Linked DNA regions of Homo sapiens: regions 1, 2 and 4 are each reported to be linked to region 3. The links are microRNA targets in miRTarBase. Many come from high-throughput screens and were not tested one by one. Region 3 holds a microRNA gene; each other region holds the end of a gene's coding sequence.

Region 1 (3,000 bases), not on the chromosome of region 3:
CTTCCAAGATGCAGTCAAGTTTACTATTTTCTGTTTAGTATATTACTAGTTTGAAAGTTCTTTTTGGAAACCTACTTGACTTCAGTGCTTGGCAGTTCATGGAAAACTAACTTAATGTTAACTTATTAATCCGGGTTCTGTCTGCTAAAACTTATGTGACTTTCTTGATTAACACTTCTTTTGAAACACTTTTCTTCTTTCTCTTTCAGTCTTGGTCTTTGTAATGGGAAAAGAAGGGGTCCATGGAGGCGGATTGAATAAGAAGGCATACTCAATGGCAAAATACTTGAGAGACTCTGGGTTCTAGCTGCTAGGCAGACTGTTAAGTATTAGGGGAAAATTGCTCTTAAACTTTCCTAGCTATAAGCTTAAGTCTTAATTCTGGAAATTTTATTAGCAATGCAGGGTGATGGGGTATGAACCTGTGTCTCCTTTGTATCCCTCTGTTGGTGGGGAAAGGTGTCTTTCTTTCTGCCCTCCCCCCCCAAAATAATTCTGTTCACTTTTGTTTTGTTTCCTTGTGTACTCCAGCATTGGTTATAGTCATGGGAAAGGAAGGTGTCCACGGAGGCACACTTAACAAGAAAGCATATGAACTCGCTTTATACCTGAGGAGGTCTGATGTGTAAGCAGCCTCTCCCCATCTACCTAGCAACTGTCTTCATCAACAACCCTAATTATGGTCACAATGCTACCAAACTGTAGATGGTAGCTAATTTTTCTTTACCTATTTTCTAATGTCATGATTCCTGTTTGCCCAATGGATCATTTGTATGTTAACCACTGTATGTAACCAACCCTTATCTGGCAACATAATTGCAGCACAATAATGATTTGCATGATACCTTGAAATTGGGGGGAGGGGGCATGCCAAGTTGGGCATCACTTTGTCTTAGCAATTAATGGGATATTGATTACTAAAATAAGTTAATATTAAGCAAGGTGCCGGTTGTACAATCTCTGATCAGTGTCTTTTCAGCACTTTGAGCATTTACTTGGCTCATTTAGTCTTCCTTTTGTAGCGCATGGTTGGGAGGAAAAAGTGCATGCATCATTCCTTCACTCTTCTCTTTTTCCCGCCCCCCCTCCCTTCGCACATAGGCATTTGGTTTGCTTCCATCTTTTTTTATGCAGTGCCTGTTTTTTTTTAACCAATTAAAATCCCTTTTGTTGATGAGCTATTGAGAGCTGCAGTAGTTTGCTTTTAGTATTGTTGTTGCACTTGAGCAGAGACAAACCTTTATTCATAGTGTCTACAGGACATATGAAGAGTGCAATGGCAAAACAAGAGCAAAAAGCACTTCCTCCCATGACCTTACAGTAACCATACTGATTGAATCCCCAGGGACATTCCATCATTGCAATAGCTCAGATTTTTCTTCCTTTTTCTTTGCACACCAGCTCTACTCTTTAGTAAAATTGTAAAAGGCTGCCATTATGGACATTAGGTATCCCAACATAACCATCTGGAGTGTGTCCAGTTTGTTCTTCATAGGACCAATTTTTATTTGCAGCTTGAGTTTTTATATGAAGTTGCATTATTGTGGACTTGGCTGTCTTGTGATGAATTTTTTTCATATGTATTCTGTGCCATACTATTGTTAAAATGAACTGTTGCTATTGTGAGATGGATTTTAACTGACCTATTAAGGGTTTCTTTCGAATGGCACTACTTTAGGGACATTCTAGTATTTGCTTCTATTGTTTGGGCCTTGTGGATAATGTACAGATTTAAAAACAAATCTTGTTGCTGATTTGTCCATTTCTTTCCCTGCACTTTGTTACATCTGGGATACAGTCTAACTCATCTGATTTAATATGCATTTAAAAAAATGCCATAACTATTAAACACCTTGTTTACAGACAGATGAAATAAATTTATTCCAACCAAATACTCTAGGCTCCTGTTGTTTATATACATTGTTTATATAAACTGTTAAAAGTTGATTTTTGACAAAGTGGGAATACACAGAATAGGCCAAAGTCTGCTGCAAGCATAAAACTTCAGCAATATTAGGTGATGGCCTACTTCAAGTAATATTACAGATAAAATTAGTGCCTGGGAATTTCTTTTTAATGGACTCTGATCTGTTACACATAGCTTTTAGTCATTTCAGGCTCATCTTCAGGAGTATGTGAGAAGCAACTGACTTATCTGCTAGAAAATAAGTATTTTCCTCTTCTTGCTGGTTTCTAGATGTGAAATCTAATAGTAAAGGGAGTACCAAGAAGGGTTTCTGCACTATTGTGGATTTTTCTGTATTGAAATGTCATATGACTTTAGATTTGGAAGCTGTGTTGGCAGGCTGAAGTCAGCCAGCTGGGGCCCTCCCACATAAGAGCAGAAGACATTCCTTAGGCAGCATATAAGATAATTGGGATGCTTTTGCATTTTTTGGCTTTGTAGTGACATGTTGACCATGGCTGTGTAATAGGTTTAAATCCAGAGGCCATAAAATCCCTGATATATATTGAAGTTTGATAAATATGTAAATTTAGGGCTATTTACATAAATCATTATTACCAACAACTGTCAAGCGGACGCTTAGAGCCAGGGGTGCTCAAAAGTTAGTAGGTCTCAGTAAAACTGGGGAGCTGGTTATAAGGCAGACTATGGACTCTGGGGTTCCACTCTGGAGATGGAGAGTCCATAAGCCCAGGAATCCCTTTTCAGAAACAATCACTGAGTCAGTCTGATTCATTTTAAGTGGTGTATATGCTACCTTTTGAGAAAAAATGGGTTAGGGAATAGGAATTAACCTGTCTTAAAATATACTATGCATAATGAAAGTTTTTTTTTCTTTGACTAGTTGTCAGGCACTGGTTGTGAATATGGTTGTACATACACAGGGATGTACAAATATGGGAGATAAAGGATTTGGGGCTATTTTGGTAGTTGGACATAACCTAGAAATTGTAAAACTATAATAAAAACCTGGTATCAGTTTCTTGACCTGTTAAGGCCAAAAGACGGGGCAAATGAAAATTTGGTGGTTGAGT
Region 2 (3,138 bases), not on the chromosome of region 3:
CTGTAGGCTGGAGGACAGGAAGCTCTGTTTTGACATACTTGGTGCATTCCTTGTCTTGCCCTAGGAGAGGTCTTGTGGGTCAGGCCAAACACTGTAAGGGTGTGGGTCTCTCTTTGTGGCCATTGCTAGGGCTACTGTGTCCTGGTGCTTTGAGTTCTCCAGCAGAGGTCAGGCTCTTCCTGCAGGATCATAACAGCCCTGCTGCTCTTTTTACTTTCTGGCTGTTTAGATCACATCTGTCAGGGTGGTGGGCTAGGGCTGTCTTCTAACAAGGATCCTGTTCAAAGCTTCTCATTCTTCCCCTAACTGAACTAGTAACCTTGAAACGTCTGGCCAGTCTGAATCCTTTTTCTGTCAGATGGATAGAGCAGTGTTGTGTATGGGTTTGTTGAGTGTGAAGGGCAGATAAAAGAATAATCCGCGTGAACTGTGCAGGGCCATATGAATGTCACGGCTTTGCACACACATAGTGGACACCCACATCAGAAACTTCCTTTCTTGGCTTCAGAGGGGCAGCTGGGAATCTGACCTAGTGATCATACACACTGTAGGAAAGGGGTTGGGGAAATCCCCGTATGTAACTTTGCTTTTCTTTCTCTTCTAGCTTAATCGAACCCTGAAGAAGATGGGACAGAGACCTTGATGATATTCACACACATTCAGGAACCTGTTTTGATGTATTATAGGCAGGAAGTGTTTTTGCTACCGTGAAACCTTTACCTAGATCAGCCATCAGCCTGTCAACTCAGTTAACAAGTTAAGGACCGAAGTGTTTCAAGTGGATCTCAGTAAAGGATCTTTGGAGCCAGATTTGTCGTCTCATTATTGTAGGAGAGAATTTGTGGGTTGTGGCAGTAATACATTTCCCATGTGTCCTGATGCTTTCAGGATACATCAGTTGTTAGTGTTTAAATTGAGTTATTTTTATTTTGTGCTTTTGAGATGGAGTCTCACTCTGTCTCCCAGGCTGGAGTGCAGTAGCGTGATCTCAGTTCGTTGCATCCTCCGCTGCCCAGGTTCAAGCAGTTCTGCCTCAGCCTTCCAAGTAGCTGGGATTACAGGCGTGTGCCACCACACTCAGCTAATTTTTGTATTCTCAGTAGAGATGGGTTTTACCATGTTGGCCAGGCTGGTCTCGAACTCCTGGCCTCAAGTGATTCGCCTGCCTTGGCCTCCCAAAATGTGCTAGGATTACAGGCATGAGCCACCACGCCCCGCCTAAATTCAAAATCTTTTTGTTTTTTTTTAGACGGAGTCTCACTCTGTCGCCCAGGTTGGAGTGTACTGGCGCGATCTCGGCTCACTGCAAGCTCCACCTCCCAGGTTCCTGCCATTCTCCTGCCTCAGCCTCCCAAGTAGCTGGGACTACAGGCACCCGCCACCATGCCCGGCCAATTTTTTGTATTTTTTAGTAGAGATGGGGTTTCACCGTGTTAGCCAGGATGGTCTCAGATTTCCTGACCTCGTGATCTGCCCATCTCTGCCTCCTAAAGTACTGGGATTACAGGCGTGAGCCACCGTGCCCAGCCCTAAATTGAATTCTTAAATCCCTCTTGTTCATAAAGCAGTATATTTGGTTTACAGGACATTTTCACGTTCAGTATTTTGTTTGTGCGTCACAAGATCCTATGAACTTTAAATGACCTATAATTTTCATGACATATTTGTGGCAGTGCTGGGTCCTGGAAGGAAACTATTGAACACCTCCTACTGCCAGGAACTGTGCAAAGAGGGATCCATATACATTACTTACACCTTACAACTCAGGTTTAGTAGTAGTTCCTCATCTTATTGATGAGGAAATGAACCCACAGTAGTTAGTGACTTGATCAAGGTCACATTAGGCAGCTGCTGGAGCTGAGCTAAATGGTTTCCTGCCTACCCACAGTATTAATGCTATGCCTGTCACCCTATAGTGGGTACTTGGACTGGAAGCCCCTGCTTGCAAGTTGTCTCACATCTCTGCCTGGTTCCTTGTATATAAAATAAGGTTAGCAGGCCAGGCGCGGTGGCTCACGCCTGTAATCCCAGCACTGGGAGGCCGAGGCGGGCGGATCACAAGGTCAAGGAGATCGAGACCATCCTGGCTAACATGGCGAAACCCTGTCTCTATTAAAAATACAAAAAAATTAGCCGGGCGTGGTGGCGGGCGCCTGTAGTCCCAGCTACTCGGGAGGCTGAGGCAGGAGAATGGCGTGAACCCGGGAGGCGGAGCTTGCAGTGAGCCAAGAGATCGTGCCGCTGGACCCCAGCCTGGGTTACAGAGCGAGACTCCGTCTAAAAAAAATAAAAAATAAGTGTAGCAGAACCTGGCTCACTGGGCAGTGGTGACGAATAAATGAGAATGCTATTTTGAGTGCCCAGTGCAGTGCCTGGCCTATAATGGATGTTCAGTTACTGTTTCCCCACACTTGGAATTCGTAAGCTTTTCAGTATGCTCTTTTTCCCCATTGGTTTGATAATTATTATTGGGAACTGAATGGTGGTTCCCAAGAAGACATGTCCATATCCTAAGCCCTGGATGCCATCAGCATGACCTTATTTGTTTGGCTGGCATGCAGTGGCACGATCTCTGTTCACTGCAACGTCTGCCTCCCAGGTTCAAGCTATTCTACCTCAGCCTCCCAAGTAGTTGCATGCCACCATGCCTGGCTAATTTTTTGTATTTTTATTTTTGTTTATTTTTTTGAGACAGAGTTTTGATCTTATTGCCCAGGCTGGAGTGCAATGGCGCGATCTCGGCTCACTGCAACCTCCGCCTCCGGGGTTCAAGCGGTTCTCCTGCCTCAGCCTCCCAAGTAGCTGGGACTACAGGTGCACGCCACCACGCCTGGCTAATGTTTGTAGTTTTAATAGAGACGAGGTTTCGCGATGTTGGCCAGGCTAGTCTCGAACTCCTGACCTCAGGTGATCTGCCTGCCTCAGCCTCCCAAAGTGCTGGGATTATAGGCGTGAGCCACTGCGCCTGGCTTTTTGTATTTTCAGTAGAGACTGGGTTTCACCATGTTGGTCAGGTGGGTCTCAAACTCCTGACCTCAGATGATCACCCATCTCGGCCTCCCAAAGTGCTGGGATTACAGGCATGAGCCACAGTGCCCGGCCTTCTTTGTTTTGTTTTTGTTTTTGTTTTTGAGATGG
Region 3 (3,171 bases):
TCAAACTCCTGTACTCAAGCAATCCTCCCATCTCATCCTCCCAAAATGTTAGGATTACAGGTATGAGCTCCCACACCCAGCCCACTTCTGGAACTTTTATTGAAAAGTATCCTTAGGCTGGGTTCGGTGGCTCACACCTGTAATCTTGGCACTTTGAGAGGCTGAGGCAGGAGACCATGTCTTTACAAAAAAGAAAAAAAAAATGTTTTTTGAGACAGAATCTCTCTCTGTTGCCCAGGCTGGAGTGCAGTGGTGCAATCTTGGGTCATGCAGCCTCTGCCTCCTGGGTTCAAGGGATTCCCATGCCTCAGCCTCCCGAGTAGCTGGGACTACAGGTGTGTGCCACAACGCCCAGCTAATTTTTGTATTTTTAGGAGAAATGGAGTTTCACCATGTTGTCCAGGCTGGTCTTGAACTCCTGGCCTCAAGTGGTCCACCTGCCTTGGCCTCCCAAAGTGCTGGGATGACAGGCGTGAGCCACCCGGCCAAAAAAATAATAATTTTTTTTTTAATAGAAAAGTACCCTGAGAACTCTGGTCTAGGGAGGGCTTTAAATGTCATTCCCTCATTGGGTCTCCCAGGAAAGCGCCATAAGGTGGTTAGAGGTCTTGGGTTTAGAGTCAGGTATGTTCTATCTCCAGGCTTGTGGGGGCGTACGAGTGATGTGACAAACCCCATACATGGTGCATGGCTGTATGAGCACAGGATGTATGTCCTTGTTTGCTTCCCTCCTTTGCCTGTGCCTGTATCGCCTGGAGTGAGCCAGCCCCCCCACTCCGAGTGGAAGCGATTCTTCCCCGACCTCCCCGGTTCTCCCCCACTGGCCAGCCCATTGAAGGCGAAGGTCGAAGGGAGTCTGCGCTATGAGGCCGGCTGTGACTTGTTGTCGTAGTACATCAGAACAACAAAATCACTAGTCTTCCACACAGCACTAGACCACAGCCACTCTAATCTTCTTCACCACCCTCTGCCCCATGTCTGAGACCCCTGCCCAGCTCCTCCTTCTCACCTGAGCCAAGCTATGACACCTGAGTTTCCTGCCTCTGTGCTGCCTCCCTGTTTTCCATTCCCGGTTCTCCTGGAGAGAAGCAGGGTCTGATCTCCAAGGGCCCACCTCCCACCCAGGCACGTCAGAGACATGGGATTTGGAGTTGGACTGGTGGGGTTGACTTACAGCTTCACTTGTGGGCTGAGAGTCCCTGCGTGGGTTATTTTTCTGCCTTTCTCAGGGCCTTGGGTTCCCCAAATGTCACATGGGCACAGTAACACCCATGTCCTAGGGTTGAAGATGGCATGATATGATGTATGTAAAATGCTTGGCACAAGGTTTCTCACCGAAGTCTGGAAGAGACACCATAATGTCATCTTAGCAGGCAGCTGTTACCCCAGTGAGGTATCTTACCTGTTGAAAATTCCGGACTTGGGCCAGGCGCAGTGACTCACGCCTGTAATCCTAGCACTTTGGGAGGCTGAGGTGGACGGATGAAGAGGTCAAGAGTTTGAGACCAGCCTGGCCAACATGGTGAAACCCCGTCTCTACTAAGAATACAAAAATTAGCCGGGAGTGGTGGCATGTGCCTGTAATCCCAGATACTCGGGAGGCTGAGGCAGGAGAATCCCTTGAACCCAGGAGGCAGAGGTTGCAGTGAGCCGAGATCGTGCCACTGCACTCCAGCCTGGGCGACAGAGCAAGACTCCGTCTCGAAAAAAAAAGAAAATTGCAGACTTCTGTGTGTGCTTATCTGGAAAATACTTTGTTTAAAAATCCATTACATGAGGTGCAGGTCTCCAGAAATGCCAGGCACCTCAGACCACCCTCTCTCGTCCTCCCCCTGCAAAATCAGGGTCAAAGGGCTCTCCCGTTACCTGGAGGAGCTGTCCAGGGTTCTGGAGACGAAACGGAGCCCGCTGGGAACTGTCCTGAGCCCCGGTGCTGAAACAGATCGCGGTTCTCTTCTCGGACCTCCCGAGAGGCGCTGTCCGGATATTTGGTGCTGAAATAAATAGCATTCTCCTCCTTCGGTCGGTGGAGAGCTGTCCCTCGTGCTGAAGAAAACTTGATTTTCCTCTCTCTTTCCCCGTTCCCCCACCCCTCTTCGTTCTCGGTTCCTCCGATTCTTGGGAAACCCCACCCCCACTCAATTTATTTCCCCTCCTAGCTTCTTCCTGGGGAGCTTCAGAATGGCAATGGGGTGGCGGGGGGGAGACACAGAGGGGTCGCAACTAGCACTGATACCTGCTCCTCACCCTGTACCATGTCCCCAGAACTTACCTCCCAAGCAGTCAGCCCTGCTGGTCTCTGCTTTCCAGACCGTCAAACTTCGCCGTCTCTGTCCCTTTCTGGGAAAATGTCCATGCGCCAACCTGCAAACCAGCCTCATTCCCGGCATCCCACGTCCCTCAGACCACCCCTCCTCCCACGCAGCTGCGGGCCTCCCCCTCTGTGTGCCTCACCTGCTTCCAGTCTTGTTGGCAGATGCAGGTGTCCCGTGGCTGCCGAGGCGGGGACCTGCGCTTTTATAGGCTTCAGGGAAGGCGGAGCGCCAGGAATCCTGGGAGGGGCTTCCCCAACTGGCCAATGGGATTCCGCCTCAGAATGAAGCTCCAAAGATTACCTCATAGGTTGTGGCCCACGCTTCAGAATAAAAGTCTGGCATCTGCCCAAAAACTGGGCTAGGGGATTTTTTCGGATGGGGAAGGAGCATTCATTGTGGACCATGGAGTCTCCCCACTCTCTCCAATCCCCTCCTGGGTTCCTGAGCTCCAAGTTCGTTCAGGTGTCCTGGCTGGTACCTGTTTCTTCCCATTCCCAATTTTTGCTATTGCTCCTGGTTCAGGAAAGAAAAAGCTGGTAAACTGTTTTGGGAAAAAATAAGGGATGTGGAGAATATTAAAGTCCAGTTCCACCTAGGGCAACTGACGTCTGTGAAAATGGAGGGCTCAGAAGACTCTGGGGCAGAGGTGGGACTTAAGCCTGAAGCTTTTGATTCCTTAACTCAAAACCCAATTTATAAAATTCAGCTTATTGTAGTGCTATACTGGGCAGGCTCTGAACCAAAAAACGAAGAAACTGGGGTTCAAGTTCAGATTTTTCTTCTCCTTCCTTTGGGACATTGGGCACAGTTGTGCCTCAGTTTTTGCAACTGTGAAGTAGTGATAATAGTAGAGTAT
Region 4 (3,000 bases), not on the chromosome of region 3:
AATCTTTTAGGTCTCTCGGGAAGGCCCCAGCCTCCCTCCCCACTGAAGAAAAGAAGTTGGTAACCACAGAGCAAAGTCCCTGGGCCCTGGGAAAAGCCTCATCACGGGCAGGGCTCTGGCCCATAGTGGCTGGACAGACACTGGCACAGTCTTGCTGGTCTGCTGGGAGCACACAGACATTGGCACAGACTTGCTGGTCTCTTGGAAGAGGGCAAGACCCCAAACCAGAGCAAAATACACTTCCAGCTCTTAACCAGGCTCCTTCCAGTCACAAGTGTGCAGAATCAGAACAGAAGTAGTACCAATCAATGTCACATGAACAAACAAGCTGCCCCCAGGGTACCATTTGGGGAGGGGAAATCTTTTCTTTCTTTCCCCCTTAAAAAAAAACACATCTGCCCCGAACACTTTCCCACTGTTATTCTTTCCTCATATCCCAACACTCAGAACTCTTGTGACATTAGCCAGTGGGGGCTTATGGTTGTGTGAACCATGTATGAAAATCCAGTGGGCCCCAACCAAGGAGACAGACAGACTTGGGTCTCTTTCCCCCAACTTTTCCACATGGTCATCGTGAAATAAAAAGTCCACTCTGGAGTCAAGTATGGAATTCAATTCCGCTGGTCAGGTTGGAAGGTATAGGGGCTCTCAAAGCGATTTCCCCAACCAGACAGAGCCCCATTGAGGGCACCTAGGAACCCTTGGGAGGAAATGGTGTTCTTTCAAATCAGTGGCGATTTCCTGAGCATTCACGTGTTCTAGGCCGGGTGCTAGTCACTGATGAGAGATACAGGCCTCATCCCTGTGAGCCTGGATTCCAAGGCTTTCAGGAACCTTTGACCAGGAAGTAACAGGAAGTTCTGAGGGGCCCTGGGGCTTTAGACTCATTTTGAAATGTCCTTTGTGGCACCAGAAGTGGTTGTGTTGAGGAAGTGTCTCTTGGCTGCGGTGTGCATGGGTGCGTGTGCATGCGCGCACACTCACAGAGGTCTCCTCTATAGATGCAAGGGTGCTGCATTGAGGCCAGCAAGGCTGTTGGCTGTGGGGTCGCCGCTGCTGCTTTTGTCTGGGCTGTGCAGAGTCTCAAGATCAGTCCTTGGAGGAGCAGGTGGTCAGGGGCAGTCGGGCTCTGTGCGAATGTAGATTTCCAGCAGTGGAAGAAGGCATTTGGCAAGCTTCTCTTTCTTTGCTTTTGTTTCTACCTATTTTTCTCTTTGTACATGAATCCACCCCATCCCTATTTCCCTAAAACACTCAGGTGCTTTCAGATTTCAGAGCCTCGGGCAGTGGACATAGGGAATCTCTGGCAAGCTCTGAGCTAGACACACCAGCTTCAGGAAGAGTACCAGATCCTGATGGGAAATTTCTTTTCCCCATTCCTTTTCCCTCCTGAGTGGAGGGAGTCCTCTTCTTCGCCTCCCTGAGAATTGCTGTGCTCTGTATTGAGAGCACCTGCCTGCTGACTTAGCTCAAAGGCAAGCCAGAACCCTTCCCTGAAGACTGGCAAGAGGTGGTGTTTAGAGCAACGTCCAGGCTAAGAGATGACTCCTATTAACTGCTGATTATCTGTTACTGCTGCCCTGAGCTGGGGCCCAAGGGCTGGGAAATCTGTTGGTGCTACCCTGCCCTACCATTCACCCAGCTCACAGACTGCCAACAGGAAGTGCTGTTTGGCTAGTTTCCTCCCACTTGTCTACCCCTCCTTTGTCCTTAGACCAACATGTTTACCTCTCTGCTTTGCCAACTTAGCCAGCAGGCCATCCCCGGCCCTAACGTCTCCTGGCCATTATCTCTTAGTTATGGCTTTCACGCTCTCAATAGGATTCTGTATTTGGTCCCAATTTCCTCAAGTTCTTATTGAGGTTACTCCCATCAATTCCACGGAGGGAACAGTAGTTATTATAGAAGCATTTGCGCTTTATCTAAAGATTAAAAATAGAATCTGCTTTTATTTCCCAAAGTCTGTCTCTGAGGTTGAGACACTTGAACTCAGGCAGAGGGACGAGGCTGGGCAGGGCTGTCCTGAGTTTAGGGGCCTATCCCTGCATTTCACTGAGACCTCGGAATCTCCTCTGTGAATTCCACCTGCCTAGTTCTCCCCTTTCATCCTCTCTCTCTTCCCACATCATCAAAGAGGAAAAGCTCTTTGTTCAAAAGGAAGAGAAAACGTAAAGCATCTTATTTTCTTTTAAAAGAATTTTAAACCATGAAAAAGATATTTTTAAAGAAATTCACCGAGAACATTAAAGTTCATTATATTAAGTATTTATCATGTGTGAGAATAATAAATATATAACTGCAGCTAGTAGGTCCCTTTCCCTAATCTTTTAGGTCATATGAGTAGGGTTTGCTTGGTGCCAGTCCTGTGCCCTTTTCTCTCCAGTCATCTGTAGTTGTGATCAGAAAAAGGTATCTGCACTGCACTGTCAGAGTCTCCTTTCACTATGTTGTGTGTTAAATTACCGTAGCTCTTTGTTTCATGAAATAAACTGTGAATTTGGGGGGGGCGGGGGGAGGGCGTGCAGGCCATGTAAAAATTTTCCGTGGAGAAGTTTGATTCTAAAGTAGCTTCTCTAAAGTAGGCTTTGGTAGGTAATCAACTTGACAGCAGTCTAGATGTCTCACAGGACAGGAGGGAGTGAGGGAAAGGGGCCATGATTGGCTGCTTTGTGGTTTTATTTTGGTTCTTTCCATTCTCCGCCATTCATTGGAGGCTTCGTTCCAGACCTGCCTGGGAAAACAGCTTCTGAGCCATTTTGGGGAGCAGTTCTTCATCTGAATGGATGGACATCTGGGCTTCCTTCAAGGGCCATTGAATGGGAACTAGAAAACCACTGGAAACTAGAAATTTGAGCTATTGGGCCCACCAGTAGCAGCATGTGATACTAGATGGTTAAAATCATGAAAGCAGTCACTATCCAATTAGAAGCAGAGTCACAACAACTGTTGGGAAATGTGACTCTTGGAGGAAGGTGGGGAGGGAGTGGCCTTGCCAGCCCT

What was found. Region 3 holds the annotated microRNA hsa-miR-7-5p (UGGAAGACUAGUGAUUUUGUUGUU, at 901-924, opposite strand). A microRNA usually pairs through its seed, bases 2 to 8, with sites in the 3' UTR of a target mRNA and lowers its output. Matches are read on the target gene's strand: a 7mer-m8 pairs with bases 2 to 8, a 7mer-A1 pairs with bases 2 to 7 and ends in A, and an 8mer does both.
Region 1: the mRNA of PFN2 is a reported target of hsa-miR-7-5p. Seed matches in the 3' UTR shown: 7mer-m8 at 1,008-1,014.
Region 2: miRTarBase lists EIF3L as a target of hsa-miR-7-5p. The part of its 3' UTR that is shown has no 7-base or 8-base seed match.
Region 4: miRTarBase lists NSD1 as a target of hsa-miR-7-5p. The part of its 3' UTR that is shown has no 7-base or 8-base seed match.

What each region holds. Positions count from the first base shown.
Region 1 is chr3:149,963,796-149,966,795 of GRCh38, reverse strand. It overlaps PFN2 (profilin 2), which reads left to right. Exons shown (of 3, transcript NM_053024.4): 3 at 210-1,892. The coding sequence ends at 307. Among named protein-coding and RNA genes, the nearest start is that of PFN2, 5.6 kb to the left of the region's middle.
Region 2 is chr22:37,887,822-37,890,959 of GRCh38, forward strand. EIF3L (eukaryotic translation initiation factor 3 subunit L) reads left to right here. Exons shown (of 13, transcript NM_016091.4): 13 at 605-1,586. The coding sequence ends at 643. Among named protein-coding and RNA genes, the nearest start is that of MICALL1, 17 kb to the right of the region's middle.
Region 3 is chr19:4,768,453-4,771,623 of GRCh38, reverse strand. It overlaps MIR7-3 (microRNA 7-3), which reads right to left and starts at 954; the gene lies at 845-954. It overlaps MIR7-3HG (MIR7-3 host gene), which reads right to left and starts at 2,519. Exons shown (of 3, transcript NR_027148.1): 1 at 2,273-2,519; 2 at 1,867-1,994. RefSeq lists a silencer at 1,793-2,087.
Region 4 is chr5:177,295,161-177,298,160 of GRCh38, forward strand. NSD1 (nuclear receptor binding SET domain protein 1) reads left to right here. Exons shown (of 23, transcript NM_022455.5): 23 at 1-3,000. The coding sequence ends at 299. Among named protein-coding and RNA genes, the nearest start is that of RAB24, 7.1 kb to the right of the region's middle. RefSeq lists enhancers at 540-1,041, 1,042-1,541.